Linked DNA regions of Homo sapiens. The protein of the gene in region 1 interacts with the protein of each later gene in a biochemical or structural test. Each region holds a gene or a part of one and is shown in the gene's direction. Other genes may lie near its edges. The genes, in order: BTK, BLNK, STAT5A and SH3BP5.

What was found.
Region 2: the proteins of BTK (region 1) and BLNK interact in a biophysical measurement, tested with the Homo sapiens proteins (one study listed by IntAct).
Region 3: the proteins of BTK (region 1) and STAT5A form a complex in vitro, tested with the Homo sapiens proteins (one study listed by BioGRID).
Region 4: the proteins of BTK (region 1) and SH3BP5 form a complex in vitro, tested with the Homo sapiens proteins (2 studies listed by BioGRID, with this or other methods).

The regions. Positions count from the first base shown.
Region 1 is NC_000023.11:101,369,185-101,376,207, reverse strand, and holds part of BTK (tyrosine-protein kinase BTK), read left to right. Parts: intron 1-893; coding exon of another isoform or gene 894-923; coding exon 924-1,064; intron 1,065-1,573; coding exon 1,574-1,672; intron 1,673-4,506; coding exon 4,507-4,575; intron 4,576-6,128; coding exon 6,129-6,210; intron 6,211-7,023. UniProt on the Homo sapiens protein: Non-receptor tyrosine kinase indispensable for B lymphocyte development, differentiation and signaling. Binding of antigen to the B-cell antigen receptor (BCR) triggers signaling that ultimately leads to B-cell activation.
Region 2 is NC_000010.11:96,191,567-96,198,589, reverse strand, and holds part of BLNK (B-cell linker protein), read left to right. Parts: intron 1-1,526; coding exon 1,527-1,682; intron 1,683-6,497; coding exon 6,498-6,617; 3' UTR 6,618-7,023. UniProt on the Homo sapiens protein: Functions as a central linker protein, downstream of the B-cell receptor (BCR), bridging the SYK kinase to a multitude of signaling pathways and regulating biological outcomes of B-cell function and development.
Region 3 is NC_000017.11:42,283,503-42,291,507, forward strand, and holds the start of STAT5A (signal transducer and activator of transcription 5A), read left to right. Parts: upstream 1-4,995; 5' UTR 4,996-5,096; intron 5,097-5,427; exon of another isoform or gene 5,428-5,899; 5' UTR 5,900-5,909; coding exon 5,910-6,037; intron 6,038-6,363; coding exon 6,364-6,520; intron 6,521-8,005. UniProt on the Homo sapiens protein: Carries out a dual function: signal transduction and activation of transcription. Mediates cellular responses to the cytokine KITLG/SCF and other growth factors. Mediates cellular responses to ERBB4.
Region 4 is NC_000003.12:15,266,572-15,273,594, reverse strand, and holds part of SH3BP5 (SH3 domain-binding protein 5), read left to right. Parts: intron 1-215; exon of another isoform or gene 216-479; intron 480-1,734; exon of another isoform or gene 1,735-1,839; intron 1,840-3,717; coding exon 3,718-3,882; intron 3,883-7,023. UniProt on the Homo sapiens protein: Functions as a guanine nucleotide exchange factor (GEF) with specificity for RAB11A and RAB25. Inhibits the auto- and transphosphorylation activity of BTK. Plays a negative regulatory role in BTK-related cytoplasmic signaling in B-cells.

The DNA.
Region 1 (7,023 bases):
CAGTGGTGACTTTGGGAACTTTATTTGTCTTTCTGTGTTTCAGTTACCTAAATTGAATCCTTCTGGAGTATTGTAGGTTTGGGGAGGCTAAATAAGTTGTGTTTCATAAATGAACAGAGGTGGCATCTATATCAGTAAGACAGTTGCATCACTTTTGCATGATGCTGTCTAAAAGAACTAATTTAAGCTAAATGGGGAAAAGGTCAGAAAACAACAACTACCCCCCCCCCACCAAAACCCACCAAAAAAAATTATGTTTTCAACTTTAGAACAAATCTTCTATCCTTTGTAGCTCAGTCAGTGGGTGTGGGCAAAATCAGTTGGGCAGCAGTTAGTGTGTGTCCAGAACTGCAGGTGCAGCCTCCATATCCTTATTAGTTCCCTTGGTTACAGACCCCAGTGGGACAATGTTTGAAAAATTATATTCACCGTCTAGGAAATTGGGAACTGAAAGTCCAATATCTGCCTCAGTGGAGTTCTGGCACCTGCATTATCCCTTCTGGGTATATCAAGATCAACAGCTGCACAGATACTTTTGCTTTTCACAGATTCTACACATATCATATAAAGGTGAATAGTGTAAAGCTACCTCTACACCTTACCAAGCACACAGGTGCGTGCCATTTAACATCTAGAGCATTCCATTGCCTTATACAAGAACTCAGTTTATATGAGCTCACAACATCGAACCAATCCCCCCCCAATTCAGTGTGCATCCATTATACCTGAAACCTGACAGAGCTGGGGGCTGTGGGAGGAGGTTGGTAGGAAGAAATTATTTTGTGAGCTGTGCACATTTTTGTTCCATTTGAAACTAGGTAGCTAGGCTGAGGGGGAACCAAGAGGGATGAGGATTAATGTCCTGGGTCCTCAGGAACTTTCATTATCAACAGCACACAGGTGAACTCCAGAAAGAAGAAGCTATGGCCGCAGTGATTCTGGAGAGCATCTTTCTGAAGCGATCCCAACAGAAAAAGAAAACATCACCTCTAAACTTCAAGAAGCGCCTGTTTCTCTTGACCGTGCACAAACTCTCCTACTATGAGTATGACTTTGAACGTGGGGTAAGTTTCTCGACTATGAAAACTGAGTTTCAAGATATCAAGGACTTGGCCTTAGATCTTTCTTGGGGAAGAGGTAAATTTTCGTTGGTAGGAGGAGGGGAGTAGAATGGACCTAAGTTCTTTCAAATTCAGCAAAATATTTCCTAGCCTATAACTAGCTAAAGCCGGAAAGTCAAAGGTCCTAAGAAGCCACAAGGAAAATATTACCATGGAATCTTGGAATTGATGAGCACTCATTAAATGATTGTTGAAAATGAAATCGAAGAGTTGGAAATTGCTTCCTTACTTCCTATGAGGAAGGTACATACAGTCATTCACTCTTCCATGGTATTTGCCCTCCATTTGGTAGTCATAGATTTATAGATCTGGAAGGATTTTTTTTTCTTCCCCCACATGACAGGTCCTGGTGCCACCTCACTTTGTTGAATGATTAGATAACAAAATCTAATCATCTGGTTGCTTAATCCCTCTTAATCTTTCTCCATTTTCTTCCTCATTCTACTTCTCAGAGAAGAGGCAGTAAGAAGGGTTCAATAGATGTTGAGAAGATCACTTGTGTTGAAACAGTGGTTCCTGAAAAAAATCCTCCTCCAGAAAGACAGATTCCGGTAAGAAGAGACCAATGTCTGAGATGGGGAACAGCAGATTTGAAGAAATTTGCAACATTTAAATTCTCTGTAAATAGACTGGTGATGCTGTGCAACGTGGAACACGGTCAAGTTTCCTTTAAAAATTCTTCACTCTACCATATTGGTTATAAAGAATCTTAGCTTCTTTCCTTCATATTCAGAACATCTCACTAAACATGGAAAATTTGTTAACACAAACTTTTAAATGATGCTATATCTAGTTTTCAAACTGGTCAGAGATCATTGATTTTATTCCCTCAGTTCTCTCAGGATCAGATTTAGAGGCTTAAGTAAGTCTGAATGTCATAATCCTAGGGCTCTGAGTCACATGATATCCTTTAATACCTTACTATTTATTCTCTTCTCACTTTCCGGAGCGAGAGACATAAAACCTACTGATTTTTGAGTTCACTTTTAAAAAATATATATCAATTTCAGTATTTTCTTTTTTTCTTTTTTTTTTCTTTTTTTAGACAGAGTCTCGCTCTGTTGCCCAGGCTGGAATGCACTGGTGCCATCTTGGCTCACTGCAACCTTCACCTCCCGGGTTCAAGCAATTCTCATGCCTCAGCCTCCCAAGTAGCTGGGATTACAGGTGTGCACCACCATGCCTGGCTAATTTTTCGTATTTTTTTAGTAGAGACGGGGTTTCACCATGTTGGCCAGGCTGGTCTTGAACTCCTGGCCTCAAGTGATCCGCCTGTCTCGGCCTCCCAAAGTGCAAAGATTACAGGCGTGAGCCACCCACTGGGTCTGACCATTTTCAGTATTTTCTTGATCACAGGAGAATTGCGTATTTATTACAGAAACTCTGGAATATATAAAAAATACAAAAAGATTAAAATGATGCATAATCCTGTTACCCAGTTAAAACAACTATCAACATATTGGTGTACATAGACTTACAGATGTTTTTCTTCACTGAGAACACATACGCATACACTTATATATATGTCATATATTTAAAACATAGACTCATAGTACACATCTTGCTTTGTAACGTACTTTTTCAATGTAACGATATGTGGGAAACTTTTCCCCATGACAATAGATATTCTTTAATAACATGATTTTAATGACTGTATGGTATTCCCTATTATGGATGTATTGTAATTTGTTTAATCTCCCATTATTACACATTCGGTTTGTCTACAAGTACTTGATAGTATAAACCATGTTGAGAGGAACAATCTTGCATACATCTTTCTGTACTTTTTTTATTCTTTTCCTTATGATAATTTCCTAGAAGTAAAATTTTGTTCTTCTCTTTAAGAAAATCTGTGCACTTTGGTTATTTTTATCTTTTTATTTCATTTTCTAGAAGTGGAATTGAATTTCATACACACCTACAAGCTATGTATGAGAGTGCCTGTTTCTGTACATTTTTTCCAACACTAGATATTTTGTTATTTTTATTATTATTATTATTTTCTGAGATGGAGTCTCGCTGTGTCGCCCAGGCTGGAGTGCAGTGGTGCGATCTCCGCTCACTGTAACCTCTGCCTCCGGTTCAAGTGATTCTCCTGCCCCAGCCTCCTGAGTAGCTGGGACTACAGGCGCCCACCACCACACCCTGCTAATTTTTGTATTTTTAGTAGAGATGGGGTTTCACCAGATTGGTCAGGCTGATCTCAAACTCCTGACCTCAAGTGATCCTCCCACCTCGGCCTCCCAAAGTGCTGGGATTACAGGCGTGAGCCACTGTGCCCAGCCCAACACTAGATATTTTAAATATTAGTTAATTTGACAGCCAAGAAAAATAGCATTTCAGGTGGGGCGTGGTGGCTCACGCCTGTAATCCCAGCACTTTGGGAGGCCAAGGCAGGCGGATCATGAGCAGGAGTTCGAGACCAGCCTGACCAACATGGTGAAACCCCGTCTCTACTAAAAATACAAAAATTAGCTGGGCATGGTGGCGCGAGCCTGTAATCCCAGCTACTCGGGAGGCTGAGGCAGGAGACTCCCTTGAACCCAGGAGGCGGAGGTTGCAGTGAGCCGAGATCGCACCACTGCACATCCAGGCTGGACGACAGAGCAAGACTCCGTCTCAAAAAAAAAAAATAGCATTTTATTGCTAACTTATTTTGCAATTTCTTTTACTCATAAAGTTGGTCTACTGCTCATTTATATTTTATTTGTGAATTGCCCATTAATTTTTGGTCCATTTTTTACATTGAGATGTTTACCTCATTTCTAATACTTTTAAAGAGATCTTGATATAAGAACATTTATCCTTTAACTGTAAAGTATGTTGAAAATGTTTTTCAGTTTATCCTTTATCTTTCAATTTTGTTTATGATGCTTTTTGCCATATAGGGATTTAAAGTCTATGTCATCAAATTAGTTCAGGTTTTTCTTAATAGTTCTAAGTTTCATCCTTATATTAGAAAAAGCTTGCCTCCCACAGGATTATATAAATAATTGCTTATATTTACTCTCAGTCATTCATAGTTTTATTTTTTATATTAAGCTCTTGAATCCATCTGGAATTTTCTTTGGTGTATGGTGTAGCATAGCTACCTAACTCCTCTCCTCCCCACAACGTTAGTGGTTAAATATTTGTCCCAACAACAATTTTTTAGAAACCTCCATTTTCCCAGTGATTTGAAATACCTGAGTCTCTCTTGACTGGGTATGTGTTGGGTCGTATTGGATATGTGTCCCTATTGGCCTATAGAAAGTAATCACTAAGAATCAGCCTTGTCTGTGCAGGAGAAACTTCTGAAGCCACAGCAAAAGGCTTCTAGTACCTAAGGAAATTCAGAAAAGAGCAATGCATCAACCAATAACCATTTTTTCTTATTTCATTACAGAGAAGAGGTGAAGAGTCCAGTGAAATGGAGCAAATTTCAATCATTGAAAGGTTCCCTTATCCCTTCCAGGTGAGTTATTTTCTCTCACCAAATCTCGAAAGGCCCCTGTAACACAATTAGAAGGGGTGGTGGGGTGCAGGGCAGAGGGAAGGCTACGAGGACCCAGTGAATAGAAGTTGAGGTGGACAAGGATGCTGAACCAAGAAATGAGACTGGCATGGGCTAAGAATGTTTGCTTTTCTATTTACCTAATCTAACATAGTTTCTTTTAGTCTCTATACCTCAAAAAGAATACATAGCAGCACCAATTCTATCATAGTGTGTCTTGTCTATGATAACTGCATTGAGAAAGATGCTCTGCTTGTTGAGTGAGCATTTCACTTCCTTCTGGTTCTGACTATCTGTCTAATAGTGGTCATGTGGGTTGAAAAGATAGAAAAGGGGAGTAGTATTAGGAAGTTCAGTATGAGGAAGACTTATTAGACTTATGCATAAACCTAAATTCTGTTGTAATCTGGAAGAGCTGAAGTGCCACATATGCATCTGTTTAGGAGAGCAAGAACTACAAATTTGGTCTTCAGTTTGGCTTGCTTACATCCTGAGAACTCTGTAGGCCACATGTCGTGAATATAGCAGCCTCTGCAACAGTGAAAGCCAGAAAAGGAAGTGGAAAGTCTCAGGGGAGGGGGCTTTCTGTCATGGATTTATGAGCACAGCAAGACTAACAAGCAAAAAGAAAAATGTAAAAGGATCTTGTTCGTGTCCCTGACTATATCAAATTTACGAAACCTTTGAAAGAGGGGTATTTCAGACACAGTTTTTACTACCAATGCCTTTCAACAAGATGACATTGTTTGGCTGCACTAGTGAACAATGCTGAACAGCAGATAATTTTAAATTAATTTATATTTGACTTCAGAATTTATTATGTGATGTCTATAAACTCTGTGAGGGTTGGAACCACATCTTATATATTTCATGCATCTTCGTAACACCTAGCATGATGCCTTGTACATGGTTAAAAAAATACTATTTGACTTGATGATATTGCTTATTATATACCTTACCCTTTTTGAAGTAGGTTTGTAGTTCCAAATTTGATTTATTTTGGCTAATATTGGTGAGGGGAGGCCACTAGGTAGTGGAGGTGGAGGTAATTAGCCATGAATTAAAATTTTACTCCATATTATCCAAGTGAATAACCCATATGTACTAATCAAGACTTAATTTATATAGATTATCACTTCATTTCTCTTCTATACAAAGTCAGAATTTAATAATAAGATAAAATACCCTTTGTTGGATAAACAAAAATGTTATCTCCAGCAAGGGCAGACGGAGACCTTATAAAATAAGTTTATGCATGAATTGAAGCACAAGTCAGGAGGACCTAAGAGTATGAAAAATTCTAAGAGCTTTTAAACGCTACATTCCTAGATATGAAGAGTTCAGGAATCCTTCAGATAGTTCACATAACCTGAACACCATTGCTGACTGAAGATTCTGCCTTTCTTTGTTTTCTACAATAAATATACAAATTGTCCCCTAAGATTAGTACTTTCAAGGTCTTTCTCCTTTTTTCTGAATCCTAACTGCTGAAGTCTGTGTTTTCATCGACCCAGGTTGTATATGATGAAGGGCCTCTCTACGTCTTCTCCCCAACTGAAGAACTAAGGAAGCGGTGGATTCACCAGCTCAAAAACGGTGAGAATTATTTGGAAAATAAATGTTTCCAAAGAAAGAAGGAAAGGAAGGAAGAGGAGATAGACGGGAGGAAAAGGAAAGAAGGAAGAGAGAAACGAGAAAGAAAGAGAAAGGAGAAACGTAGAGAGAAAAGAAGAAAAAAATGGATAGAAGGGGAGAAAAGAAAGAGAGAGGGAGGGGAGGAGGGAGACAGGAAGGAAGGAAGCAAGGAAAGAAGGAAGGGGATGAGGGAGGAAAGAAAGACAAATAACAAAGAAACAAAGGAAAGTTTGTATTTTGTTTCAATATTAGTAATACAATTGAGCTTAGTATTCCATCATATGAATAAAAGATAAAATATTAGACTAAGAGTTTCCCAGTTCTATCACTATCTCTCTAGTGCAATTTTGTAATTTTAGGCACCTCCATTTCTCTATTTATTAAGAAAAGTCCCATTTTTTGCACTGAATACAAGGGTGGTGTGGCATTCAATGGTTATGCAATATTTAGAATCCTAAGTATAAAATACCTAGCTCCAAAAAATTAAATAGATGATGTATGAGAGTGCTTGAAGTCAGAGTCAGAGAACCTGGTTTCAAGCCCTCTTTTACCATTTACAAACTGGGTGATTTCTGGCAAGAAGGCCAACAAGCTTCTTTGATGCTCAGTTTCTTCTTCTCAAAGGAGAATAATGGTAATTCATGCCACATCTACCTCTGGGGTTGTTGTAAGGATCAAATGAAGTAATAATACATGTAAAAGCACATGGAAAACTGTAAATCACTGTATACGAAAGCACTGTACATCTCTTTGTTGTGGATAAATATTTCCCAA
Region 2 (7,023 bases), on another chromosome or scaffold:
TCTGTATGAAGCTCTTGAGAAGTCTGATACCAATGTGACTTTCTTGCCCTTCTATGTAATTTGATACTTTAGTCTGGTGGCTCTGCAGACTTTTTGTTTTTAAAGTCTAATCATTTTACCAGAATATATCTCTGAGTTGATAATTCCAAATCAATTTTCTCAAGTAGACAGAAGCCCTTTCAATACGTAGATTTAAGTTTTCTCTTATATCCAATAAGTTTTCTTAGATCATAGTCTTAAAGGGTTGTTCTGTTCCCTTATTTGTTTTTCTTCTGCAAGCACTCAATTTACATGCGTTTTGGATCTTTTTTGTCATTTTTTCTCCCATCACTGTCTTTGATTCTATGGTACTTATTTTATTAAATCCCATTTTCTCTCCTGGTTGTTTCCACACCTTCCTTCAAGTGTCATTTCTTAAATCTTCATTTGAAGCTCTCGTCCCTTGGACATCTTATAATTTGTTCTTTGTTGAGATAGGCTTGTCTTTTTCTTCAGTTTGTTTCCTGAGTTTGATCAACTCTTGTTGCATTTCATTCTGCTTTTTGTCCATCTTTTGTTCGTAATTTTTTATTTTATGATTCTAAATATTTTTATTAAAAAATTTAATAAAATTTGAATTACTGTCTTACAGTTTGGGGATTTTTTTTTCTTTTTCTTTTTCTTTCTTTTTTTTTTTGATGTTGTCTCGCTCTGTCACCCAGGCTGGAGTGCAGTGGCACGATCTTGGCTCACTGCAAACTCCGTCTCCTGGGTTCACGCCATTCTTCTGCCTCAGCCTCCCGAGTAGCTGGGACTACAGGTGCCCGCCACTATGCCCGGCTAGGGATTTTTTTTCTTATAAAAGTTCTTTGAGGAGAGAATTTTCATAATGAGGTCAGTCTGACCCAAGATTTTAGTCCAGGGGCAAATATAAAATGAAAGTTTTGATTCCCAACCTCTGTTTTCTTCTTATAGTACTTATGAATGGAATTTGTTTGATACATTTTTTTTCATAGACAACTGGTGGCTATGGTTCCCAGTTCAAGAGAGTCCTCTAGATTTGATCTTAATGTGTCCCTTCACATATTTCTAAATTTTATAAACATAAAACCTTATTTAGCACATTAAAAAGCTAGCATTTAGCTGGGCATGGTGGTGCATGCCAGTAGTCCCAGGTACTCAGGAGGCTGAGGTGGGAGGATCGCTTGAACTCAGGAGTTCCAGGCTGTAGTGGACTGTGATTGCACCACTGCACACCAGCCTGGGCAACAAAGTGAGACTGTTTCTAAAAATAATTAATTAATTATTACCTTTTTTTCAAAAAAGGCAAGCATTGATCTCACTCAGGATTTTCTATGAGTATATATTTTCCTGGACTATTTTCTTAGAAAATAAGAAGACAAGCGCTAATCAATAATAAAAATAATGTAGCTAAATAATTTACCTTTGGAATGTAATATAGGTGTTCTTCACAAAATGATTTTTTGAACCTGTAGAAATATAAGTAATACTAACCATAATTATGTTTTTTAAAAAAAATTAAACAGGATGGATCATTTCTTATTCGGAAAAGCTCTGGCCATGATTCCAAACAACCATATACACTAGTTGTATTCTTTAATAAGCGAGTATATAATATTCCTGTGCGATTTATTGAAGCAACAAAACAATATGCCTTGGGCAGAAAGAAAAATGGTGAAGAGGTCAGTGATTTCTTTTTAAATTCAATTCTATAACTATGCATTGAGTATAATGACATCAAATACTGTATTAGATGCTAGAGATGAGGAGAAAGGATACAAAAGTACTTGTTCTAATGCTTGCATAAATGTCATAGAGAACAAGATAAAATACTATATTTAGGCAGTATATCCTATAAGAACACAGAAAAGGAAAAAGTCATGTGATGTACATGCTAGTCCTTTCATTCAGTTATTTAATGAGGTCAGTCTGACCCAAGATTTTAGTCCAGGGGCAAATATAAATCAAGGTTGAAATGTCAAGTTGAATTAAGGTTGTAAGAATTAGGGTCAAGTTCCAGACCTCCAAAGTCAAGACCTAAAATCTCAACTCAAGTACCAAGGTAGGTTACCAGGGAAGGATCCAGAAGAGATGCAGAAACTTGAGTTAAAACATTAGACTATAGCCCTTGTACCAGAATGAGCTTATGGGCCTGGAGCAAGAAAAAAAAATCACATGGGTCTTAAATATTAATCAAACATTAACTTTAATGCCTCTTTAATCTGGACCAAACTCAGTGCTTACCATATCTCAGTTTAGCCAGCCTGCTCCTATAAATGAACCCTGAAATATGAGCTGGAGTAACCCATGAATGGTCTAGAAATGCAGTGATACTTATTCTGGTTTTGAATTACGGGTTGAATTTAAATGGGTAGAATGTAAGTTGGAGGGATGGAGAAGGAGAAAAATGGGAAGAACAATCTATGCAGAGAAAATAGCATAAACAAAATTCAAGGTAAGAAATATTTACTTTCAAGATTCCTTCAGAAAAAGGTACACCATTCCAAACCCAGCACCTGCTAGAAAATATTTGAATTGTTGGAAAATGTCATGATTGCTGAAGTGTCTGTCTTCCCCACTACATGAAGCCAAGGACAATGTCTTTTCATCTCTGTATTTCCAGAATCAGAGCACAGTAACTGGCTTCAGTGTACACTTGATAAATAATTATTAAGCAACTGAATTGATTTGGTTGAGTGATTACAGGCAGGAGAATAGCATTTGCAAAACAAACTGAAAAAGTCATGTGTATTCTTTATTTTGCCTTTTAGACAACTGTGGTTAAAAAACCACATATAAAATTTACCATCTTAATCATTTTAAGTGTACAGCTCAGTAATAAGTATATTTACATTGTTGTGAAACAGATCTCCAGAACTTGTTCATCTTATAGAACTAAAACCCTATACCCACTGAACAACAGTTTCCCTTTTCCCCCTCCCTTCAGCCCCTAGCAACCACGTTCTATTTTTATGAATTTGAATATTTTAGATACCTCATACAAGTGGAATCACACAGTATTTGTCCTTTAGGACCAGCTTATTTAACTTAGCATGATGTCCTTGAGACTCATCCATGTTGTAGCATGTGTTAGGATTTCCTTCCTTTTTAAGGCTGCATAGTATCTCATTGTATCTATATACCACATTTTGTGTGTCTAACATCCATCAGTGGACATTTGTGTTGCTTCTACCTCTTGGCTATTGTGAATAGTGCTGCTATAAACACGGGTGTGCAAATCTCTCCAGGACACTGCTTTCAATTATTTGGGGGTATATACCCAGAAGTGGGATTGCTGGATGATATGGGTATTCTATTTTTAATTTTTTGAGAACCTCCCATACTTTTTTCCATAGCAGTTGCACCATTTTACAGTTCCACCAACAGCACACGAGGGTTTAACTTCTTCACATCCCCACCAGCACTTGTTATATTCTGAATTGTGTTGTTGTTTTATAGTAGCCGTCCAAATGGGTGTAAGGTGATAGACAGCTCATTGTGGTTTTAATTTGCATTTCTCTGGCCGGGCGCGGTGGCTCACGCCTGTAATCCCAGCACTTTGGGAGGCCGAGACGGGCGGATCACGAGGTCAGGAGATCGAGACCATCCTGGCTAACACGGTGAAACCCCGTCTCTACTAAAAATACAAAAATTAGCCGGGCATGGTGGCGCGTGCCTGTAGTCCCAGCTACACAGGAGGCTGAGGCAGGAGAATGGCGTGAACCCGGGAGGCGGAGCTTGCAGTGAGTCGAGATCGCGCCACTGCACTCCAGCCTGGGCGACAGAGCGAGACTCCGTCTCAAAAAAAAAAAAAAAAAAAATTTGCATTTCTCTGATGATTAGTGATGTTGAACATTTTTCATATGCTTTTTTGGCTACTTGTAAGTCATTTTCAGAGAAATGTCTATTCCATTTTATAATCAGGTTATTTGATTTTTGTTGTTGCTGAGTTTTAGGAGTTCTTTATGTTTCTGGATATTAACCCCTTATCAGATAAATGATTTGCAAATATTTTTCCCACTCCATAGGTTACCTTTCCACTCTGTTGATTGTGTTATTTGCTGAGCAAAAGCTTTTAAGCTTGATATTGTCTTCTCTATTTTTGCTTTTTTTGCCTATGCTTTTAATGTCATATCCAAAAAATCATTGCCAAATCCAGTGTCATGGTGTTTCCCCCCTACATTTTCTTCTAGAATTTTTATATTGGGGAATTTTATTTTGCTTTTAACAAAGTCTCAGATAATTTTAAAATGCAAAACTCTTGAATCTAAGGGCACTAATCAAGACCAATCTTTGGTTTTAAAATGTAGACCGCATTATCATTTAACATCCTAAAGCTTCTCCAGCAGTCTAGCTTTTCTATAAGAGGCTTAAGGGTGGGTGAAGAAGCTGTCCTATTTCGAGGTCCTGAAATTCTCTCACAAATTTTGAACTCCCTGAGGGGCTCTGGATTTCGTTGTCCTGCTAGGAAACTCTGGTAAACAGGAATTCCTCTTGGCCTGATGAATCTTCATCTCCACTTTAGAATGAATAGACTAGAGCTTCACCTCACTTCCAACATATTCAGCCTATGGATTCCAAAATAAGTAATATATTACTATAATAGCATCTGGAGGTACTGACAGTCAATTAAAACTCTTACTTAAAGTATCTATAATAAAAAGATTATGTCCCCTATACACTGAACATCTGAATGGAAAATTAAAGTGTTGGTTACATGATGTCAATCATGTGGAGTTTTTCTGAAAGTCTGTGTGTATTTGTGTGTACATGGCTAGAAAAAGTAACCAATTCATTAACTATTTAACTGTTTATGCAGCTATTTTGGCACTGTGTGATACAACATTGAGTAATTTTACAGTTTTGACAACTGTCTGCTTTATCTTAGTGGCCAATACGTTGTTTTTCTGTCCACAAATACACTGAATGTATCTGTCTCAAATACACTGAATTAATAAAAACAGAAAAAAAGGAGAGTGAGGGGAAGCTGTAACTATGTTATGCCCAATTCTTTTTTAAATTAAATCACAAATATTCTTCAACTTCATTCCCTACTTCAAATGTTTCAACTCAGCTCAACTCCCTACTGCACACACTTCAATCCCCGAACACCACAACAAGGCAATACTCACAAATATTCAGGGACTAGAGGGACGGAATGAGATATTTGTTTGTATAAGTACAGCAATCCTCTCCTATGCTTCCTAGGTTCAGGACACACTTTTTCCCTTGTAATCCACTTCAAAGAGATTGTGCTATTTCGTTTTCTGGCCCTTGAGTCCATAACTTTAACTTTCAACTGCATTTGGTTTAGCAACATATTATGCCAAACAAGCAGAATGAATGTTTAATGGGATTTATAATGAAAGAATTTCTTTGGCAATTGCAAGATGGCTGAATGATTGAATAGGAAGTAAAGAATAAAGACTAAAGGTATTTGAAAGTCCCTGTCTCTTACCTCTCTCCCTGACTGAATATTCAGCTAGCCAATTATCTAAAAGACAACTGGTATTTCATTTGGAAATGTTGGCCAATATTCTGAATATTTTACTTTATTCAATATGTAGCTACTTGGAAGTCATCCAAACAATTAATAAACACTTAAAAATTTTACTGTGGATGTTTGTCTTTATCTAAAAAATCGAGAAAATAAAATCAATTGATAGTAACTGCTAAACTCATGGCACTGTTGTAAAACAATCACCACTTTTAAAAAGTGATTCTAAATACATTTAATGAGTGTGAACTTGTAGCACTTTTGTATACTCAATGAATTTAATTTCATGATCTGTGTTACATTTGTTTTTATCTTTCCTTCAAAACTTTAATTATTTTTCAGAACAAAATTTGTGATAATTTTAAATTAAAACCCATAGACAACAAGGATCAAAATTTGGAAAAATAAGTATGTATGGAGAGAGCCTAGCATGAAATTTCATTATTAATTAGGCACTAAGTTAACTCTAAGCTTACCAGGAACCAAGTAAAAATGGAAATATGAAGGTTTATAAAGCTTTCTTTATTTGTTTAAAAAAGAAAACAAAACATAATTTTGTTTAGGAGATGACTATTTCCTTGTACTAAATTTCTAAGGTTAATTTATTACATCAATTCTTGTATCTGAGACTTGTGCAAAGTAAGAGATGATCTATGTTTTGTAAAGAATGTAGAAAAATGCGTTGTATGATAGTTTTACATTTAACGGTAAATAAAAAGCAATATACTATAATATTTTATCATAACTCAGTGAAGTAATCTCTCTAAGTAGCTATGCTAATTGAGGCTGTCAGTGTGTTTTTCTTCGTACTTAATACAGCAAAGTCCAAGGTCTGCCACCTTGAAGGTTACAGCCTTTGTTAAACTAGATTTTTTTGTGCAGAATGTCAGCTGGGGTGTAATAACTTTTACTAACTTGAGAATGAGAGAAGATGGGAGGAGTGGAGCTCAAATTTAACACAAATGCCAAAGTATAATTCATCTATGTTTTCTTCCTCTAGTACTTTGGAAGTGTTGCTGAAATCATCAGGAATCATCAACATAGTCCTTTGGTTCTTATTGACAGTCAGAATAACACAAAAGATTCCACCAGACTGAAGTATGCAGTTAAAGTTTCATAAAGGGGGAAAAAAAAGATCAATACCATTGCTTCAGACACTTTCCCAAAGTTTCTCCTTTTGAGAAAAAGTCCCAAAACTTCATATTTTGGATTATGAATCATCCAGTAATAAAATGGAAGATGGAGTCAGCTATTGAAGTGGTCATCCATTTCTTTTTAAGAAGCTCATGTGGACTTGTTCTATTGCCTGACCTGATGAACTGTTAATATCTGGTGAGGTTGAGTTATCATGCTACTAATATTTTCCAAATAAATATTTTTATTTTTAAAAATAAGTGTAAAGTATATTATCAAAATAAGAAAATAATGCTCTTGCATAAAACAAAGTGGCTGGAAATTTAAACCTCCACAATGATCATTGGTACACTAATGTAGCTGGGCTCTCCACTGCCAATGCTTGACAATTA
Region 3 (8,005 bases), on another chromosome or scaffold:
GACTCCTCTCCTACCCACCCTGTCCAGCCCCACACCCTTCCCCTCATGCTATTCCCAGAAACAGAGGACAGTCACTATGCCTCAGGCAGGATGGCCTTGTGTTCTCTTGGTGACTTCACTGTAAAGTGACTTCCCTGAAGAGTGGTGGATAGGGGACAGCGGCAGGAACGGGCTTCACCCAAGCTCCGGCAGCTCCTTCCCTTCCCCCAGATTTGCACAGAAGTCCTCACCCTGTGCATATAAACACACACCCTCCCTAGGTCCTGATCTGTCTTCTTGGACAAGAATGGGGGTGGCATTTCTATAGGGAGGTACCAGGGCCTGGCCTCAGAGGTGGGGTATACTCTGAGCATGGGCCCATGGCCCCACTTCTAGAAGCCTTCTCCGGTGGGGGCTGGAGTGCAGGTAGGCTGTCCAAGCAGAGGCAAGGTGGGGGTGAAACAGGATGTTTAAGTGCTCCAGGGCTTCTCCCCTTTGCCGCAGGGTGAAAAGATACTTCCTAGAAAGCCTCCAGCTTTCTTGGGAAGGCCCTTCACCCCTACCCCACCTCCCCTCTGGCTCCCATGTAACAGGAACTCTCCTTGAAGAAGGGACTTGGAGCACAGGAAACAAAGGCATCTCTGTACCACCTCCCTCCACCCCCCAAGGAAGGTCAAGTCAAGGTGACCTCAATCTGTTCTCCCCAGGGTAGGGGCATGGGCAGACCTGATCGTCAAGGGCAAGGCAGAAAGGGGACCTGGGATAATTCTTTCTCTCTCCCTCTTTTTTTTTTTTTCTTTTTGTGACGGAGTTTCGCTTTTGTTGCCCAGGCTGGAGTGCAACGGCGTGATCTCAGCTAACTGCAACCTCCACCTCCCTGGTTCAAGTGATTATCCTGCCTCAGCGTACTGAGTAGCTGGGACTACAGGTGTGCACCACCACGCCCAGCTAATTTTTGGATTTTTAGTAGAGACGGGGTTTCACCATATTGGCCAGGCTGATCTCGAACTCCTGACCTCAGGTGATGCACCCGCCTCAGCCTCCCAAAGTGCTGGGACTACAGGCGTGAGCCACCATGCCCGGCCCTTTGGGATAATTCTCTTAATCCATAAACTCAAACCCACCTTCATGTAAGTGTGCACAGAGCACACTGTCCCATTCAATAGAGCAGGGGTGTAGGCTGGGCGAGAATGGAGATGCCATGCTCCGCACCGCAGAAAAATGGTGGGCTAGCCCAGCCCAGGGAGGCCTCTTCACTCCGCCGGTGTGTGCTGGGCTTGGGGAAGCTTAGAAAGGTTATACTGAGACCCTGCCCACAAGGCCCGGCAACTTGGATCCTGGTGCCATCTGTGCACTTACTGGCCAGACAGCTTTGGGCAGGTTTCTTTCATGGACTAATCAAAGGGTGTGATTCTGGCCCTGACTGCCTTCAAGGTTATTGAAAGGATCCGTTGAGTTGAAGAGCACAACCATGTCTGTACACAAATGTGCCTTGATGTAGTTCAGGATACGAATATAGTGTGCCAACTGAAGCCTAGGCTGCAGACTATTATTATTCCTAATAAAATATAGGAGGTCTTCTTTTGGAGAATATATTGCTTTTTTTTTTTTCTTTTCTTTTTTTTTGAGACAGAGTCTGACTCTGTTGCCCAGGCTGGAGTGCAGTGGTATGATCTCGGCTCACTGCAACCTCCGCCTCCTGTGTTCAAGAGATTCTTGTGCCTCAGCCTCCCGAGTAGCTGGGATTACAGGTGCGTGACACCACGCCCAGCTAATTGTTTTGTATTTTTAGTAGACACGAGGTTTCACCATGTTGGTCAGACTGGTCTCAAACTCCTGGCCTCAAGTGATCCTCCCACCTCAGCCTCCCAGAGTGCTGGGATTACAGGCGTGAGCCACTGCACCTAGCCTGGGGAATATATTTCTGTAAGATTTCTAAAATCCTTCCTCACTCCCCATCTAATACTGTGACTTGGATTTGGGGGTGAAGAGCAGTTAGGGGCAAGGAGGCCAGCCTCGGACCGCAGCTCAGTCAGACCCTTGACAGTTTCTGATCTTCCTGAACCCCCATCCCGTGGCCTCAGTTTTCTCCTCCACAGCCTGGTTCCCCAAAATCACCAGGGCACTTTGTGGTGGGAAATCACCCACACAAGGGGACAAACAAGGGGACTGAAAGCAAAAAGAAACCCCAAATTTGACATTTCTGGGTAGTTGTGTTATCTGGAGCCACGACTACAGTCACCTCTTCCCAACCCAACTCTGACACCCTTCCCTCTACTCCCTTGGGTGCCCTTTGCCCATCCTGGGAAAGTTCCATAGCTCCTCCTCCTCCCCACTGCATCTCAAAGGGAGAACAGGCCTGAAGAAATGGAGAGAAACCCAGACAGAATCAGAGAACCAGATGGAGACCTAAGGAGACAAGGGAGAGACACAGAGAGAATAAAAGCCAGAGTGGGGGCCGGGCATGGTAGCTGATGCCTGTAATTCCAGCACTTTGGGAGGCCGAGGCGGGTGGATCACCTGAGGTCGGGAGTTCGAGACCAGCCTGACCAACATGGAGAAACACCGCCTCTACTAAAAATACAAAATTAGAAATACAAAATTAGCCAGGAGTGGTGGCACATGCCTGTAATCCCAGCTACTCGGGAGGCTGAGGTAGGAGAATCGCTTGAACCTTGGAGGTGGAGGTTGCTGTGAGCCAAGATCGCGCCATTGCACTCCAGTCTGGGCAACGAGAGCGAAACTCCATCTCAAAAAAAAAAAAAAAAAAAAAACCCAGAAGGGGAAATGTGCAATGAAAGACACAGATATTCGGGGCCTTACAGTCAGAGACCAAATGAGGGATGGTCAACCAAGGGCACAGCCACTGGGCACAGGGTCAGGGTGGGAGGCACGGGAGGGCTCTGAAAACACAGCCACACACCCTTTTAGGCCCATCCTTCCCATTCTGTACTCTGGCACCTCAATGCTAGCTTTTTAGGACCTAGGACTACCCACACTAAAGCCAAGCCCGGCCCAACCAAGACAGATGTTTGGTGGGTGGGGCTGCCTGCTGGAGCAACAGGCCTCTGCAGGCCCTGGAGGAGAAGTCTAGAGAGGTGGCTGCCTGGAAGAGAGCAGGCAGGACCCCCTCTCTTAAGCAGGCACCCCCACCCCATCAGGTGCCCAGATGTCAGTGCATGGCAAGGGTGGCCCTCTGCCCTCCAGACCTGGGTGAGAGGACTTGAAAACCTGAGGAATCTGCTCCCATCAACTGACTTCCACACCTGCCTGAAGGGAACTGCTGGAGGGCACAGGTGCCAAGTGGGACCCACCCAAATGTGGCAATGGGTTTGTATCCAGCCACCGACAGGCTGCATGACGGTGGCAAAGTCACTTCCCCTCTCTGGCCTTTGTTTTTCCACTTGTAAAATCATCTTTATGGTCACTTCCAGCTGTGGCACTTGGCTTTCATTCCAGTTGACCCCCTAGCTCTGTGTCTGACCCTCCCCTGCCAAATCCATTGCTCAGAGTGGGAAAGGAGAGGAGAGGGACTATACTTCCTCCTCCCTGGGGCCCCCTGCAGAGCATCTGGGAAGCAAGGCTTCCCTACATCCTCCATGCACCCCCTTAGAGTTTTCAATTCCTTTCCTCGTGATCCTGCCAACTAAGACACTGTGACCACACAGAGAAGGTGGGGAGAACGCAGACATTTTGGCTTCTGCAGCTTTGAAGTTCTTTTTTTTTTTTTCCTCTGAAGTTAAAAGAATGAAACTGGGAGAGGTAGTAAGGGGCAAGAAAGGAGAGTGGAAATGGAGAGAAAAGGGCAGCTCTGAGAAGCAGCTGGGGAGGGAGGCAGATGAGAATGCACCCCCCCCAACAGAACATGCAGTCTTGGCCCAGCTGTGCTGTGAGTGGGCAGCTGGGCTGGCCCCTCCTCTGGTGCTGCCAACCCGCTGCCAGGCAGAGGGGAGGCCCAGAGGAGAGGGAAGCTGGGCAAAGGGGATGGAAGGCGTCCAGCCCGACCTTACCAAACCCCTTGGGCCTCGTGGGAAGGGGCCTCTTGGAGAGGGGGACTGAGGCTCTAGACAGGATATTCACTGCTGTGGCAAGGCCTGTAGAGAGTTTCGAAGTTAGGAGGACTCAAGACGGTCCCTCCCTGGACTTTTCTGAAGGTAGAACCAGCCTCATAAGTAACTAGGCTGGGTGAACGGGGGCGCTGGCTAGTTTATGGATCACAGTCGGCTGGTGAGGCCACGTGCCTACTGTGTGGCCCTGGGTGGCCCCGGGCAAGCCCCTTTCCCTCTCAGGACTTCCATTTCTTACCTGCAAAATTGTGGAGAGGGGGAGGGCTGAAACACATGACTGCCAAGATTCTTTCCAGTTCCTCCGTCAGGGTTGAGTTTAGATGGCCGGAGTAAAAGAAGGAGGGAGGTGCTGCGGTGGTGGGGGTGATCTTGGCTTCACTAGAATCCCCAGTTCTTCCCCTCTCTACAGTTTTGTCTCTGAGGTCACAAAACCTGTGGCCCCCAAGACACACATGCGCACACACGCGCGTGCACACACACACCCCACACATTTATTTTTTAATCTAGGGGCTCAAAAGATGACACGCGCCAGAGCTGGAAGGCGTCGCCAATTGGTCCACTTTTCCCTCCTCCCTTTTTGCGGATGAGAAAACTGAGGCCCAGGTTTGGGATTTCCAGAGCCCGGGATTTCCCGGCAACGCCCGACAACCACATTCCCCCGGCTATTCTGACCCGCCCCGGTTCCGGGACGCTCCCTGGGAGCCGCCGCCGAGGGCCTGCTGGGACTCCCGGGGGACCCCGCCGTCGGGGCAGCCCCCACGCCCGGCGCCGCCCGCCGGGAACGGCCGCCGCTGTTGCGCACTTGCAGGGGAGCCGGCGACTGAGGGCGAGGCAGGGAGGGAGCAAGCGGGGCTGGGAGGGCTGCTGGCGCGGGCTCGCGCGCTGTGTATGGTCTATCGCAGGCAGCTGACCTTTGAGGAGGAAATCGCTGCTCTCCGCTCCTTCCTGTAGTAACAGCCGCCGCTGCCGCCGCCGCCAGGAACCCCGGCCGGGAGCGAGAGCCGCGGGGCGCAGAGCCGGCCCGGCTGCCGGACGGTGCGGCCCCACCAGGTGGGTGACCCGGTGGCGCGTCCTCGGCGGCGCGCCGAGAGGGGACACTCTACTGCCGCCCCGGCACCTCCGGCACCCGGAGCTCGACGGCCGGGCGCAGCGCGGGGATCAGTCCCCGGCACTGCGAGGGAGTTGGCCCAGCGCAGACGAGGGACGGGGGGACGTGGGGACAGGGGTCGGGGATGAAAGGCAGAGGCCAGGGAGGGCGCCGTCCTGGCACGCCTCGGAGAGGGAGCACCTGTCGGGCTGGACCCGGGGAGGCACTAGTGCACAGATGGGGGAGCAGCCGAAGAGGGGAGCGCCCAAGTCCTCAGCCCTGTCTCCTGAACAGCCCCAGCCACGTGCCCGAAAAGCCCTAGCCGTCGAGTGGGAGCCGTCGTGGCGCTGGCCTAACTTCGGGTTGGAATATCTCCCCTTCCCAGAAACCGGGCCCGAGGTGGGCTGGGGGATCCTTGCAGCCCTCTCCAGGGGGCCTGTGGGCCTCCCGCCGTCAAGTTTCTCTTTCAGTTTCTGGCCGTCCCCCTCACTAGGGAAGCTCCGGTGGGGCGAGGGGAGAGGAAGACGGGGAGGGCACCTGCCTCTGCAGAGCACCTTCCCCTCCCCTTCAGCGGGTTCCTTGTTGGAGGGGATGGGCGGCCCTCCACTCCTCACCATCTCTGTTCCCGCACAGGAAAGCTATCTGTGGGAGGGGAGGGGCCTGGCCTGGCCGCGGTCCAGGGATAGGTAGGCATGGCAAGGCCAGGGGCAGGCCCGGTTCCTTGGCCTCTGCAGAGGAGAGCGCTTCAGCGCTCGGCTCGCCCTAGGTGAACGGCCATGGCGGGCTGGATCCAGGCCCAGCAGCTGCAGGGAGACGCGCTGCGCCAGATGCAGGTGCTGTACGGCCAGCACTTCCCCATCGAGGTCCGGCACTACTTGGCCCAGTGGATTGAGAGCCAGCCATGGTAGGCACGTCCCGCCCTGCCCCTCCTCAGAGGGTCCCTACCATCCAGGCCCTTTGGCCTCTAGTTTTACTCATGGTGGTTTGGTGTGACTCTGGTCCTGCCTGTCCTTCTTTGTGCGGAAGGGGTGGTGCCCCTGGGAAAGGGGAAGCCTGGGAGGACAGAGAATGTTTTTAGACTCGGATGTCTGTGGAGCTGCTGGGAACAAGTCTTGTGGGCCCTGGAGTGCCCTCGGTCATGAGCCTGGGGTTTCCACTTTATTCCAGCTCCCTGACCTCCTTGCCCAAGGAGGTGCCACAGTAGGTTTTTCTCTTCTGCCCTGCCCCAAGGGATGCCATTGACTTGGACAATCCCCAGGACAGAGCCCAAGCCACCCAGCTCCTGGAGGGCCTGGTGCAGGAGCTGCAGAAGAAGGCGGAGCACCAGGTGGGGGAAGATGGGTTTTTACTGAAGATCAAGCTGGGGCACTACGCCACGCAGCTCCAGGTGGGTGTAGGCTCTGGGCCACCTACGGGGAGGAAGCATCATCTTGTTCCAGCATCAGAACCCCTGGGTTTTTTCCTGGCCTGGCCACTGACTCACCATGTGACCACGAACTTATTGGGAACTTTTCTTCGATTTCCCCCACCCCCTCTTTCTAAATTCGACCTGTCGGATTTCTTTAGCATATTGCAAAGCAAGGGTGGGAGGTGTTTGTTGCCAACAGAGAGAGATGGGTGAACTGGCCTTATGGAAGCAGCAGAAGGGATGGAGGGAGACTGAGTCAGGATTCCTATGTTGGAGAAGGGAAGACCAGCAGACTCTAGAAATGAGGCCACCAGACCTCCCTCTTGGGGTCTTTTAAAGGTGAGAGAGGAGCCATCCCAGAGACAAGAGCTGGACACAAGGGCTTTGAATTGAGGGTTTAGAAATAAGATGTAGCTTCTTTACTTGAGGGGAGTGGGTATGGAGGAAGAGAGGGAGTTTTTGTGGAAGCAGGAAAGGGGTGTGGGTAGTGATGACAGTCAAGCACTTATTGGAACTCACGTATGTTTCCTAGAGAGCCCTTCAATACAGACAGCAGGGTGCCAGGGAAATACAAGTCCATCCCAGAAGAGGGGGAAAACAGGAGAAGCCTGAGGGGAAGCAATATAGGAGGCCAGGGGCAGGATGGTGGGAAGTACCTTGACCTTGGCATCAGATGCCCTGAGTCTGGAGTCATCTGCTCTCTCACTTGGTTGCGTCTGGACGAGTACATAATGTCTGAGCATCAGTTTTCTCATCTGTGAAATGGGGATCATAGTTTCTGCTTATGTCCTAGAGTTTCCATGCTGTTAGTGCCTTGATCCCCCACCACTTTTTGGCACCAGGGACCGGTTTCATGGAAGACAATTTTTCCATGGACCGGGATTGGGCAGGGAGGTGGTTTCTGGATGATTCAAGAGCATCACGTTTATTGTGCACTTTATTTCTATTGTTATTACATTGTGCTATGCAATGAAATAATTATAGAACTCACCACAATGTAGGATCAGTGGGAGCCCTGAGCTTGTTTTCCTGCAACTAGACAGTCCCATCTGGGGGTGATGGGAGACAGTGACAGATCACCAGGCATTAGATTCTCTTAAGAAGTGCATAACCTAGATCCCTCGCATGTGCAGTTCACAATAGGGTTAGCATTCCTATGGGAATCCAGTGCCATTGCTGATCTGACAGGAAGCAGAGTTCAGGCTGTAATGCGAGCAATAGGCAGCAGCTGTAAATACAGATGAAGCGTCACTCACTTGCTCACCGCCGCTCACCTCCTGCTGTGTGGTCCAGTTCCTAACAGACCACCGACCTGTACCAGTCCATGGCCCAGGGGTTTGGGACCCCTGTGTTACAGTCAAAAGATACGGTAGATTGGAAGTGCTTCATAAGACTGGGTATGATGGCTCACACCTGTAATCACAGCACTTTGGGAGGCCGAGGCGGGTGGATCACCTGAGGTCG
Region 4 (7,023 bases), on another chromosome or scaffold:
TTTCTGTGGGTTAAATGTGGAATGAGGCCTCACATTAGTTGTACCTGTGATATGGCAAGGCAAACATGTATCCTATGTCACTGTACAGGAGAAGGAATCTCGCAGAAACTTCAGACGCTTGTCCGGAATTTGACAGCACATGTTCTTCTCAAAGGCAGCTTCACATGGGCTTCCTCTTTTCCTTTGTAGAGATCTGGTTCTCTTATTTGGAACTCATCAGATACATGGCAGAGGGTGTGAAGAGGTGCTGGGCCCGTGGTACAGCAGCCACCTTTCAGAAGGCCGTCAAAAGAGCATCTTTTCTTGCTTGAAGAAATAAGGGATTCATAACTGAAGCAGAGAGAACTGGGAGAAGAGAGTTTACCCTTAAATGTTGCTGAATTGAAATACTAAAAAATTCCTAAAAAGGCAAATACAAATCCCATTTTAGGATCCTGTGGGATTCATCCTGTCTCCTGGAGTTGGTGTGAAGCATATAGGTAGGAGAGGCCACCTATGGGTAGGGGGTGGAGTGGCTTTTAAGGTGACAGGTTCCCTCTGCTTCCTCTCGTTCCCAGCAGCTTGGCCTGCGGAGGCCCTGCAGGGCTGTCCTCACATGAAAGAACTAAGAACCACTAATGGGCCTGGAGGCACGAGGTGGGGCAGGGGTTGGGGGGGTGAGTTGGTCAGCTCTAGGGAGGGTGGGCATCCTTGTTCTCCTTGTGTAGCTGAGGCACACCTGAGTGGAAGTGGGCGACTGGTCCCAGGGCCACATGGTGAGTCCACAGCAGGGGCAGGTCCCTGGGCCACTTTGGTTGAAGGTTTAGCCTGGCATTCATTCAAGGTCTTCACTGGAGTCCTTTTTAAAAATTTGATCTGAGGTATCATCGAATCTCCTACAGGCACTCTGTTTTGTAATGTCTTTATCCTACAGGCACTCTGTTTTGTAATGTCTTTATCCTACAGGCACTCTGTTTTGTAATATGTCTTTATCCTACGGGCACTCTGTTTTGTAATGTCTTTATCCTACAGGCACTCTGTTTTGTAATGTCTTTATCCTACAGGCACTCTGTTTTGTAATGTCTTTAGAGTCTCAAATCCTTCCTTCTGTCCCCCACCTCATCAGCCCATGTTTTCAAATCATTTGTGTCCTTAGTCCTGAGTTCGGGATCCTCCTCCTTTAAGAGGCCTTCCTTGGTTCTTTGTACTGGAAATAATTTCTCCTTCACATTCCCTGCCATTCCTCCCTTCCTGCTGTGGCACTGTCACATACAGCGTTGTATTACAGACTTCTGAGTGTCCACTCCATGCTTGGTTCGGGTCTCCATCTGATTGTCATCGTCGCCTGGAGGGCTGGGTCTGGGTCTGGTATGCAGTACACAATCACAGAGTGCTCGGGAAAAGCTGTTCTTTGCCTTGGGGGCTGGCGTGCTCTGAGTCTCTGATTTTTTTGTTCCCCCTTCTTTAACCTTCTTCACAAAGCGTCCTCAGCCTGTGGTTTCTGAAGACTTCCTCGAAGTCATGCAAGAATTGCTTGGGGAAGGGTGGGGTCCCTGTAGTTCCCCTCTTCCCGAGTCCCAGGGGCTGCCTTAGGGACGTCCCACCAGGGCTTATGTAACTGACTTGGGGATGTGGTTAACCGAGGGAGGGTGGTGGGACGAGGGAGGGTGGTGGGACGCTGCAGAGGCGGGTTTGTGGCTTCTACCCTGCTGGGGAATTCAAGGTGAGCCTGTAGAGTGGTGACTGTGATGTTTCAGTGCTGATTTCTCATGCAGTCACACAGCTGCCATCACATGGCCCATCTTGGGGTAAAGGTATCTACTGTCCACAAGAAATAGAATTGGAATCGCCTGTATAATTGTAAGTTTCCCTGTGGTCACAGTAAAAAAGGAAAGATGGGGAGAGATGAAATGGTGAAATTAATTTTTTTTTTTTTTGAGACAGAATTTCGCTCTTGTCATCCAGGCTGGAGTGCAATGGCGTGATCTCGGCTCACTGCAACCTCCACCTCCCAGGTTCAAACGATTCTTCTGCCTCAACCTTCCGAGTAGCTGGGACTACAGGCGTATGCCACCACACCCGGCTAATTTTTGTATTTTTAGTAGAGATAGGGTTTCGCCATGTTGGCCAGACTGGTCTCAAACTCCTGACCTTGTGATCCACCTGCCTCAGCCTCCCAAAGTGCTGGGATTACAGGTTTGAGCCACCGTGCCCAGCCTCTGTGAATTTAATCTTTAAATTTTATTTATTTAAGAAGCAGGGGCTCATTGTGTTACCCAGGTTGGAGTGCAGCGGCATAATTGTATTTCACTGTAACCTCAAGCGGTCTCCTGCCTCAAGCTCCCAAGGAGTGGGGAATACAGCCATGTGCCACCATGCTCGGATAATTTTTTAATTTTTTCCAGAAGTAGGGTCTTGCTATGTTTCCCAGGCTGGTCTTGAATACCTGGCCTCAAGTGGTCCTCCTGCCTTGGCCCCCCAAAGTGCTGGAATAGAGGTGGGATCCATTGCACCCAGCTGAAATTAATTTTAATAATATATTTAATTTAATTTAATATATCCAAAATATTATTTCATCATATAATAAAAATTATTGAGATATTTAACATTCTTTTTTTTTTGTACTAAGTCTTTAAGATTAGGGATGTCTTACATTCAATTGGGATTAATCACTTTTTTTTTTTTTTTTTGAGATGGAGTCTCACTCTGTCACCCAGGCTGGAGTGCAGTGGTGCAATCTCGGCTCACTGCAGCCTCTGCCTCTTGAGTTCAAGTGATTCTTCTGCCTCAGCCTCCCAAGTAGCTGGGATTATAGGTGCCCACCACCATGCCTGGCTAATTTTTGTGTTTTTAGTAGAGATGGGGTTTCACCATGTTGACCAGGCTGGTCTTTAATTCCTGACCTCAAGTGATCCGCCTGCCTCCCATAGTGCTGGGATTACAGGTGTGAGCCACTGCACCTGGCTGGGATTAATCACATTTTGAACAATCAGTAGACACATGTAGTGGGGGCAGCTCTAGACGTGGTGGTCAGCTACAGTTGGTATTGGTTCTCCCACCTGATGCTCCTTGAAAGCAGGGACCGTGTTGTGTTAATTAATTAGGTCCTTCTCTTTGCCTGCCTGGTGCCATACTTGGCCTGTCGCTGGTGTCAGTGGGTGTGAGTTGAGTGGGAGACTGTCTGGCAGAGTGACAGTGCTGGGCTGGAACTCATACTGGCTGGAGTCTGGCACAGCTCTGCATCTAGTCAGCTGTGTGATCTCAGGAAAGGCTGTGTCCTCTCAGCTAAGGTCCCCCTTCTATAGAGTGAAGTCTTTGGACCATGATCTCTGGGGGCCTTCCTGGTTCTGACTTGCCATGAATTGAGCCACAGATCTGGGCAGGGAAGGTGACAGGCCTCGAGTGAGGCAGAGCTTCTGAGAAAGGCTGTGGGGTTGGCTGTACCTGTCCCACGATGGGCTGGTTTGCCATGTCAGGTTCTGGCCAAGGGCTGATGTGTTTATCTCATCCATTGGGCCCAGAACTGTGGAAATTGTTCGCTCACTGATTTGTTGCTCACTCCCCCATCAGGGGTCCATTGCCCTGTCTGGCATCTATGAGGACCTGTGGGTGCCAGGAGTGAAGAGGCAGAGATGAGCTTGTCCTGGTCCTTGGGATGCTTATTTTTTGAAAGGTAAAATGGACCATGGGGAGCCCCTGCCATTTTCTGAGGCCTCATGAGGATTCTTTCTCACACAGGCTCAGCTGGAAGCTCAGAAAGCCACGCAGGACTTCCAGAGGGCCACAGAGGTGCTCCGTGCCGCCAAGGAGACCATCTCCCTGGCCGAGCAGCGGCTGCTGGAGGATGACAAGCGGCAGTTCGACTCCGCCTGGCAGGAGATGCTGAATCACGCCACTCAGAGGGTATGAGTCATGGCCGGGTGTGCTGTGGGGGTGTGCGCGTGCATGCGCGCTGGCTTCCCCTGAGCGGAGGTAACAGACTCGACTCCCAGGCATGTTGCCTGAAAACACCCTGAAAATCACAGGTTGTCATCTCCGTATGATCTCTTGGCTGCGCTTGGTACGAAGCCAGTGCTCCAGAATGAGTCACAGTGTCTCTCCGTGACAGCGAGAGCTGCTCCTTCCCTTATGTTGCTTGAGGTTTGTCTGGTTTGGGTCATCCCCAGGGGGTCTTGACTGGACTCAGGCTTCCAGAGGGACGAGGTTTTCCAGGGTTTGCTCCCATGGAACCCCAGCAATACTGGCTGGGTTTCGAATCTGTGATGGGGAGACCTTGATGAACAGCCCTAAATGGGGGCTGCACTTCGGGTATGTGCTGTCGGAGGAAGGCAGGGGTCATGGCGGATTAGACCAGAATCAGGTGTGTACTTACGACAGGCCTTCTGGGCTGGGATTCAGGGAGTTGACAGGCACAGAGGAAGCGGACTGTGTGTGATCCTTACTCACAGCTTGGCTTGCTGGGTTTTATGTCATTATATTGGGTTCTTTACTGGCTCTCATGACCACCTCTCTGACTGCGTTACTCAGAGCCAGAAATGGTGTGCCTTAGTCTGTACAGGCCAAGACAAAATACTAAACAAAATACCATAAACAGGGTAGTTGGTAAACAATAGAAATTTATTTTTCACAGCTCTGGAGGATGAGAAGTGCATTGGTAGGTAGGACATTGGTAGATTCAGTGTCTCATGAGGGCCTGTTTCTTGGTTCACAGATGACCATCTTTTCCATGTCCTAACACGGTGGAAGGGGTACATGAGCTTATAAGGTCACTAATCTCATTCATGATGGTTCTACCCTCATTACCTCATCACTTCCCAAAGGCCCTATCTCCAGATACCCTCACACTGGGGATCAGTTTCAACATAAGAATTTTGGGAGGACACAAATGTTCAGACCATAGCAGCTAGGGACAGTTCTTGGCTCAGCAGTACTTGGTTACCCCTGCCTAACTCTATCGGGTTTCTTAGAAGTCACGCAGAATGTTCCTGGATACCTCTTCCCCCTTCCAGGCTTGGCTCCTGGGCTGCCCAGGCTCATGTTCCTGGTATCCCCCCACACCAGCCTGGGTCCATTGTGCCCCTCTGCATTCTCTGTCTAGATTCCCAGCGCCTGGAAAACGAGTGTAGGGCTGGTTTGCTGCAGGGTGGGTGGGTGAGCTGACCTGTGGCTTCAGCAGCTCCAATAAGACCCTGGACGGCGCGGGTACGGGGTTGCAAGAGGTCTTGGTGACTCCTTGAGAAAGCCGTCTGGGGGACTGGATTAGAAAAGTCAGCAGGTTAATGCCAATAGGATTTCCCTTTTAAATGTCACCTGCCACAGTGGCTCAAGTCCTGGGGGATCTGATAATTAAAGATGGCCTTGTGCTTCCTTAAATAGAAAGCTTGGCACACAAATGACTTCAAGAGTCAAATCCGCGTTGACTTTACGCACCTCTCCCTGCAGCCTGAGACTCTCGGCTGAGCTTGGCTTTGTGTGGCCTTGCGCCTCCTGCCCCCTAGTGGGCGTGATGCTCACAGAGCTAGACGTGGGCTAGAAACAACTTTTCTGGGTCATCTCGAGAAAAATGGAAGGGGTGGCTGGAAATCTTGGAAGTTCACAAGCCAAAGCCCGATAGATATGAAAAGGACAAAATGTAAGGTAGCTTCTTCCAAGAAATTAGCTGAAGGGCCACTTTTCCTTTTTGCCCTTCTTCCACCCCAGCTGGAGACCCATGTCAGCCTATAAGCAAGCATTTCAGAAGTCATTTAATCTGTTGTTTAAAGATAAACAAACCATGCTTCTGCTTTGTGTATCTCTCATTTTTAAGTCCCAGGGCCCCAGTGGATAGTGGGTGGCCTCCCAAGGAGTGGCATCCCCAGACCTCCACACTGTATAACTCAGGGCACCGTTCATACCACAGACTTTGGGAATAGCGCTTTTTGGAGTTGTGCAGTGCAAGACCTGTGGGGCTATACAAGATGGCCCTGTACTCCTGAGGTCATGAGGGCTTCATAGGGCCCTGGGAGGGCCAGCTGATATGTGCCTTCTCTGTGGCCACTGAAGGGAAGGGCCCATTTGGTTTTCTTGGGCTTGGGGGCAACCTCTGCAGATTGGCAGGTGTTCCGGGTCACATGCCAGGATTTCCACCTTTGAGCTGATATTCCTCTTCCCAGATCCCTTCACAGTTGCATAGGCTGGAAATGCCCCTCATTGAACAGATGAGTTAAAAACAGACACCAGCAAGAGACAAAAGCCTGTGGCAAAGCTTTCCCCCATCACGTCCCTGTGCCACTCAGAATTTCAGCGTGCAGAGCAGGCTCTCCGAATGTAATGGATGATGCAGAACATAATTCTTTCTCCAGGACACACACTTGCATGGTTGGCTTTGAAACAGTGTCGAGTAACTGGGAACTCTCTGGACTTAGCGTTTCCCCCAGTGGTGCTCATGTTGACCCCTCCTAGAGCCTCACGGGCCTGGCATGCTCAGCCAGCTGAAAGCTGTGTGATCAAAGGGCTAGAGAATGTCTCCTCCCTTGTCTGCCTTCTGGGTACTCTAGGATGCTTGTTTCTGTAGAACAAGGGAGCTTCATCTCACCCTCTTCTTCCAAAGTATTACTTAAGGGTCTAATAAAAGAAAATTCCGTGCTCAGAAAGGCCCAGGGCTGTCTTGAAGAAATGGCAGTGGCTTGGACTACACGATCCCTCCAGGCACAGCGGGACACTGGGGTTCCCACGTAACGTGCCCAAGATTATCTATGCGGCCCCTCACACTTCCTGTGGTGACATCAGGCAGCCACACTTGGAGCCATGGCTGAAGCCGATATACTAGGAGGTGGCAGCAGCCCTGGTGTGCTCTGTTAGGCCACATGCAGTGGCACAGACAGGGACAAAGGATCAGTTTTCTGCTTAGTGCTGGGGTTGATGAGGACTCTGGAAAATACAAGTAGCTTGTGGCAGAGCTGCCAACCTTGTAGTTGAGCAGCCTTCCTTGGGGCACAGGGCCTGGGGTCCCTGCTGCTCTCCAGCTGGGGAGCTTGGGCAGCATAGGACCCCTTCAGCCTCAGC